Regions from separate parts of the Homo sapiens genome. Here region 1 is reported to be linked to region 2. The links are microRNA targets in miRTarBase. Many come from high-throughput screens and were not tested one by one. Region 2 holds a microRNA gene; the other region holds the end of a gene's coding sequence.
The links. The annotated mature microRNA hsa-miR-520a-3p reads AAAGUGCUUCCCUUUGGACUGU and lies in region 2 at 1,813-1,834, shown strand. An mRNA with a match to its seed (bases 2 to 7 or 8) in the 3' UTR can be bound and repressed. Matches are read on the target gene's strand: a 7mer-m8 pairs with bases 2 to 8, a 7mer-A1 pairs with bases 2 to 7 and ends in A, and an 8mer does both.

Region 1: miRTarBase lists ARL10 as a target of hsa-miR-520a-3p. The part of its 3' UTR that is shown has no 7-base or 8-base seed match.

Annotation. Positions count from the first base shown.
Region 1 is chr5:176,371,379-176,374,378 of GRCh38, reverse strand. ARL10 (ARF like GTPase 10) reads right to left here. Exons shown (of 4, transcript NM_173664.6): 4 at 1-2,657. The coding sequence ends at 2,484. Among named protein-coding and RNA genes, the nearest start is that of MIR1271, 4.9 kb to the right of the region's middle.
Region 2 is chr19:53,689,121-53,692,362 of GRCh38, forward strand. MIR520A (microRNA 520a) reads left to right here and starts at 1,761; the gene lies at 1,761-1,845. The region is part of intron 2 of LOC107985342 (a long non-coding RNA gene); the gene reads left to right.

The DNA.
Region 1 (3,000 bases), not on the chromosome of region 2:
CCGCTAACTGATTTAACATTGTAAACTGTGAGTTCCATAATGAGGTCAAATAGTGACAGAAGGTAGTGTCAGTGCGTGGGATTTTGGTCAATCTCTCAAAATTAAGGGGCTGAGCAAAATGAGGGACACTGTGAAGCTGAATTAAGTCTGGCCTAAAGCTGCCTCTGTACACAGTGAATTGTAACTTAACGTGTAAACAACTCGTAACCTAACCTAAAAGTATGTTCTTCTAACAAGTAGCCGAATTTTAGCCAATCACAGCAGCCAAACCTTCAGTCAATCGTCGGCTGAAGGCTGCTAAAACATGTTCAGGTAAGGCAAATGCCAGACTGCAGCCAATCAGGCAACCTAAGTTATTTTCGTTTCTCTGGCTATAAATGTAGCCTACACACATTGTGGGGCTGAGCATTCTGAACTGCTTTTGGTGCTAAGTACTAACCAGTTCACGAATCTTTTTTCTGCTCAAAAACAGAACATACTTTTTAAACTTCGTTAAAGTTGTCTAAGGTTTTTTTGCCTTCAAGCCCTGAAGAACAAGGAGTTCATAGAACAAAGGAGAAAAGTCTCTTAGCCTTCCAATGACAAAATGAAAAGCTGCCAGCAAAGTTTCAAAGGCTACTCTGAAACCCAAGTCATTCTTAAAATTTTACATAAAAGCCCATAAATCACTTCTTACTGCAGAAAGTGAACCAGCACTTTCAAGAACAGTGATTCTTCAAATGGCGCCCAAGGGCACAGCAGCCACTATTCCAAAGATCACACTCGCTTCTGGACTTCAGAATTTCCCACCCTCCTTGCGGCTTGTTGAACTGTTTTTATCATAGTTCCTCTTCTTACACTGGTCACGGTGTGGAACTGAGGCATGCTGGGTAAATGTCAAATGAAATGAAGGCACACAATCTCTATTCTCAACTAGACAGCAAATTGAGGTGCACAGCTCCTCTTAAAAAAAAAATCCATTTGTGGTTGTTGATTTAGTGGTCCCTAACAGACAACAGGCTCCTCTTTGCCTGTACCGATAATAAGTGTCAGTACAGAGCCAGTCCTTCAATTGGGCTGATCGCCAAGCACTGGAGAACTATGGAATGTGCACTGATGAGAACTCCAGAAATTCAGTCCAACTTGGCTTTCACTGGGGAAAAATTGGGTCCAGAAAGGCTGAGTGATGTACCCAAGGCCATCCCGTTGGCTGGTCTGCTATTCCTGTCCTTAGGATCACATAATACAATTTTTTTCCATCTTTTTACCTAGATTCACATAAGGGAAATCCTCTCCCAGAGTCATTTCTTATCTACCCAGAAGGAATTTGCACCCTTTCAACATCCTGGGCCAAGTGGTGGCGTTTCAGTTCATGTGAATCCATGTAAAGTACTATGATATCGACGACAGCCTCAAAGCCAGGTGGGAGGAGGAACCCACAACTTTGTCTCCACTGACATCTGTATGTTATCTCATTGTCATTCATGATTCCAGCTATTTTCCTAAGTTCCAAATTTTCTATGACTGTCATCTGGGGTTTTGAAAACAGCACCTAGAAACAGAGCCTAGAACTCTGGCCTGTTCTGCTTATAAATTAATAAATAAAATGCAGTTCTGAGGTCAACACCTAGCTCCAGTTGACTGTCGTCCCAGGGACACAGGCTCCTTCCTTCCCCTGACTTCTGTAAACATGGGCACTGGCACAGTTAGTACGAGAGCAGCAGCTTGTCTCCAGATTAGAGGGGAAAAACCCAGCCTTCACTTTTTCTGTTTGGTGGGTGAATATCAGTTATTCTGTAGTCAAGAGAGGCTGGCAGGCCAGGCCTGGGCTCAGGGAAAGGCAGGGAGGTCTTCAGAAAGCTCCTTGCTAGGATGGCCAGGTTCATCCTAGCACTTCACACTCCCATGGCTGGGAAAGGCATCTCCGAATTAGGAAACCACCTCCCTTTAAAAATAATGGCCCTGGGGTCAGAGAGGCAGAGATTGCACAAGGCCACAAGTCACTTAGGTGGAGCTGGGGCTGGACAATGCAGGACAGGAACAAAGGCTTGCTGTGTCACCACTCAGAAGCTGCCCACATGAGAAGGGCATGACGTCACCAGACTGTTTCTGGACTGGGAGACCTTGAGGCTCTAGGAGTATTTCTGACACCTACACTGGTTCCTCAGGTACCGGGACCTGTAGTGGAGGATTGAGCCCACTGAGCATCTCACTGTACAGGTAAGAGAAGGGAAAGCTGGATCCACATTCCAGCCTGGAATGAGCCAGACACTATCCTCCCCACCCTCTGTCTCACCCACCTCCCTGCTTCGGCTTCACGGCCACCTCACCAGGAAGGCTTCTGCATGGTTCTTGGCCTTGCCCAGGCCCTGCTCTTGAAAGGCAAAGGAGGGGAAAAGGGAAATGCTGCCATGTGGCTCTTGCCCCAGGCCCAGTCTGGCAATGAAGCAGCAGCAGTACAACTATGGTCTTGACAGGCAGGTGGCAAGCAGGAGAGCTCCAGCCTAGGAGAGGAGCTCCAAGAGCAGTTTCCAGATGTGCACGGTGCCAGGCTCTTCAAAGGTGGGTCCTGCAGGGGCAATGCTGGCTGCCAAGAGGAAAACCTCCCGCTGGTTATCGATAGCCTGTAGACCCAGCTCCCGCTGCAGCTCCCCCATACTCATGGCCTCGCTCAGGTCCTGGGTGAGACACAGAAGTCCGAACACAGCTGGCAGCATTTCCTAACACACTGACACCCTTGTCGTTCATGAAACACACTGTTCTTAGGCTATCCCCGGGAATATCAGGAAACACACTGTTCTTAGGCTATCCCCGGGAATATCAGGAAACACACTGTTCTTAGGCTATCCCCGGGAATATCAGGAAACACACTGTTCTTAGGCTATCCCCGGGAATATCAGGCCCCAAGTTCCCAGAAGTAGCCTCTGGACCCCTTGGCCTAAACTCAATGCTCTCTCCCTCACCCTGGGCTCTCCTTTGTACCAACCTCTTTTCATTGCATCATTAGCCACTGTTTTGAGA
Region 2 (3,242 bases):
TCCACTTATTTCTCGGAATAGACCTTTTTCTGCAGGAAGGGTGTAGTTGATTCAACCCTCACCCACTCATGCCAACCGTAGTGAGTGCTGTGACTGCAGCTGCACTGTTTATCCTGTTTTCTGCAGGTAATTTTTCCAGTGTACCATTCCAACCTGCAAAACCTCACATTTAAATGCAAATTTCTTGGTAAGCTGTGAAATGTTGGCTGTGGCTAATATGAGAAACAAGCTATTATAGACAAGATGAATCTCAGTTGCAGTGATAAATGTCACATGGGACAAAACCACAGATACTTTCACAAAAACCTTGAGGACCCTAGAAGGGCCTCCCTAGTAACAGGTGGGATGCGCATCCGCTCTTGTTGCCATAGTGAGTGATGCCTGTTCGTCCAGCCCTCAACACCTTTCACTCCGTGGAAGTTATGCCTGCACTGGTTTACAGAACCTCCCTTGACTTGACTTGAGGTAGAGTTGAAGGGAACCTCAGTGTCCCTTGCAGATGGGATGTGCATTGCTTCGCAAGAGCACAGAGGTGGAGTGCATGGGCTTTGAGTTTTTATTGGGTAAATGAAGCTGAAATACAGGGTGTATGACCACGTTATCAACGCACACTTGATTTAGGTTTTGTATTTTAGAGACGGGGGTGTGAGCTGCCAAAGCAAGGACTTATGTGTAGGAATTATTCTTTCTGTGAGCATACAGTATATGGAACTTTCTTTCTTTTGAGACAGGGTCTCAAAAATATATGATGTATGGCCAGGTGCGGTGGATCACGCCTGTAATCCCAGCAGTTTGGGAGGCCGAGGCGGGTGGATAACCTGAGATCAGGAGGGCGAGACCAGACTGGCCAACATGGTGAAACCATGTCTCTGCTAAAAATACAAAAAATTAGCCAGGGCTGGTGGCGCACGCCTGTAGTCTCAGCTACTCCGGAGGGTGAGGCAGGAGACTATCACTTTGAGTGTGTGTCTTTGTGTGTGTGTGTGTGTGTGTGTGTGTGTGTGTATGTGTTTCTAGTTTTTACAAGACACAGCCTGACTATATCACCGAGGCTGGAGTGCAGTGGTGCAATGTTGGCTCACTGCAACCTCCACCTGCCACCGCAGCCTCCTGAATTAGTGTCTACAGGTATGCACCACCACACCTGGCTCACTTTTGTATTTTTTGTACAGATGAAGCTTCACCATGTTGCCCAGGCTTGTCTGGAACTCTTGAGCTCAAGTGATCCTCTCACTTCGGCGTCCTGAAGTGCTGGGGTTAGAGATGTGAGCCACCGCACCCAACAGGTACTTGTGTATTTTTTTATTGAGGAGCTTTTACAGCGTAGCCTGTGGTCTCTCCTGGAGGATGTTTGTGTGTGCGACAATGTACATTCTTCAACATCTTAGATTCCATTTTGGATGCCCCCATGGGTACTACATGTGCCTATACTGGAACTCAAGTGAACACTTGGCTCAAAATCCATTGCTGTTCTCTAGAAATTCAGTTCGATTCTCTTGGTTAAAGATAAGGTATGAGTAGTAGGCATTGCTTTTTCTCTTTGGGGGCAAAACTCAGGAGGATTGCCCCTTGATGAACAAGGCTAACCTGCTGAGCCTTTGAAAGAAGGAACTGGAGATGGTCCTTTTAGGGGGTTTATATTCTGGATTCCAGAAAACATGCAAACAGGGCCAGGAAAAATGCATCTTTATTTTTGTGTCCATTTAAACCTGGTCAAGGAAAATTCCAACAATAAACCCAGAGTGCTGGAGCAAGAAGATCTCAGGCTGTGACCCTCCAGAGGGAAGTACTTTCTGTTGTCTGAGAGAAAAGAAAGTGCTTCCCTTTGGACTGTTTCGGTTTGAGTAAAGCAGCGTTGAAGTTGATGCTGATCTTGGTAATACATTTGCAGAGCACGCTCATCATCAGACTCGGATGATGTTGGGGTTCTGATTTTGTTTTTCTCCAAGACAGGGTCTCTGTTGCCCAGGCTGGAGTGCAGTGGCAGTTCCAACCTAGCTCTCCTGGGCCCAAGAGACCCTCTATTTATTTATTTATTTATTTATTTATTTATTTATTTATTTATTCATTCATTCATTTAGAGATGGAATCTGGCTCTGTGACCCAGGCTGGAGTGCAGTAGGACAATCTCCACTCACTGCAACCTCCATCTCCCAGGTTCCAGCAGTTCTGCCACCTCAGCCTCCCATGTAGCTGGGATTACAGGCGCCCACCACCATGTCATGCTAATTTTTGTATTTTTAGCAGAGATGGGGTTACACCATGTTTGCTGGGCTGTTCTCAACTCCTGACTTCAAGTGATTTGCCTCCCTGGCTTCCCAAAGTGCTGGTATTACAGGCGTGAGCCACTGTGTCCGGCCTCAAGTGGTCTTCCTGAGTCAGCCTCCCAAGTAGTTGGGATTACATGGGGCGTGACACAACACTTGGTTCAGCTTTTAATTTTTGGTAGAGATGGGGTCTCTGTTGCTCAGGACGGTCTCAACTCCTGAGCTCAAGCGATCCTACAGGTGTGAGCCACCTTGTCCTGATGACCCATTTCAAAGATAGTTGACTTGGCCAGGCATCATGGGGCACACAGTCCCAGTTACTGCAGGGGCCGGGGCGGGAGGGTGCTTTGATTTTAAGGCTATACCGTGCACAGATCCCACCTTTGAATAGCCACTGCACTCCAGCCTGGGCCAACATAGCAAGATCCCATTTCTTTAAAAACAGATTACATAGCACCTGGTCCCACAGATTTCATTTGGGTTGGTCATGTCATACAATGGCCTCCCATCAATTTAGTATAATCAATCCAAACCATGGTTCCTTCATTAAGAGAGTGGGTAATCCTCCAAGTCCATCCAGTCTATTCTGTAATCCCCAGTGGGTGTCCGTATTGATACAATTTCTTTTTGTTCCTGTTCACTCGTGTCTTTTTAGTGTAATCTGCTTGTCCGTAACACTGAAATTTGTTTTTCCCCAACATCTTGCCATCATTTCTCGGAATAGACCTGCTTTCTCTGCAGGAAGGGTGTAGTTGATTCAACCCTCACCCACTAATGCCAACCCCAGTGAGTTCTTTGACTGTAGCTGCCATGTTTATCCTATTTTCTTTGGGTAACGATTCCAAGGTACCATTCCAATGGGCTTAAACCTTGCATCTAAATGCCAGTTACTTGCTAAGATGTCAAATGTGTCTTATATTAGCTGTGGCTAATATAAGAAACTGTTGTAGACAAGATGAATCTCAGTCACAGTGA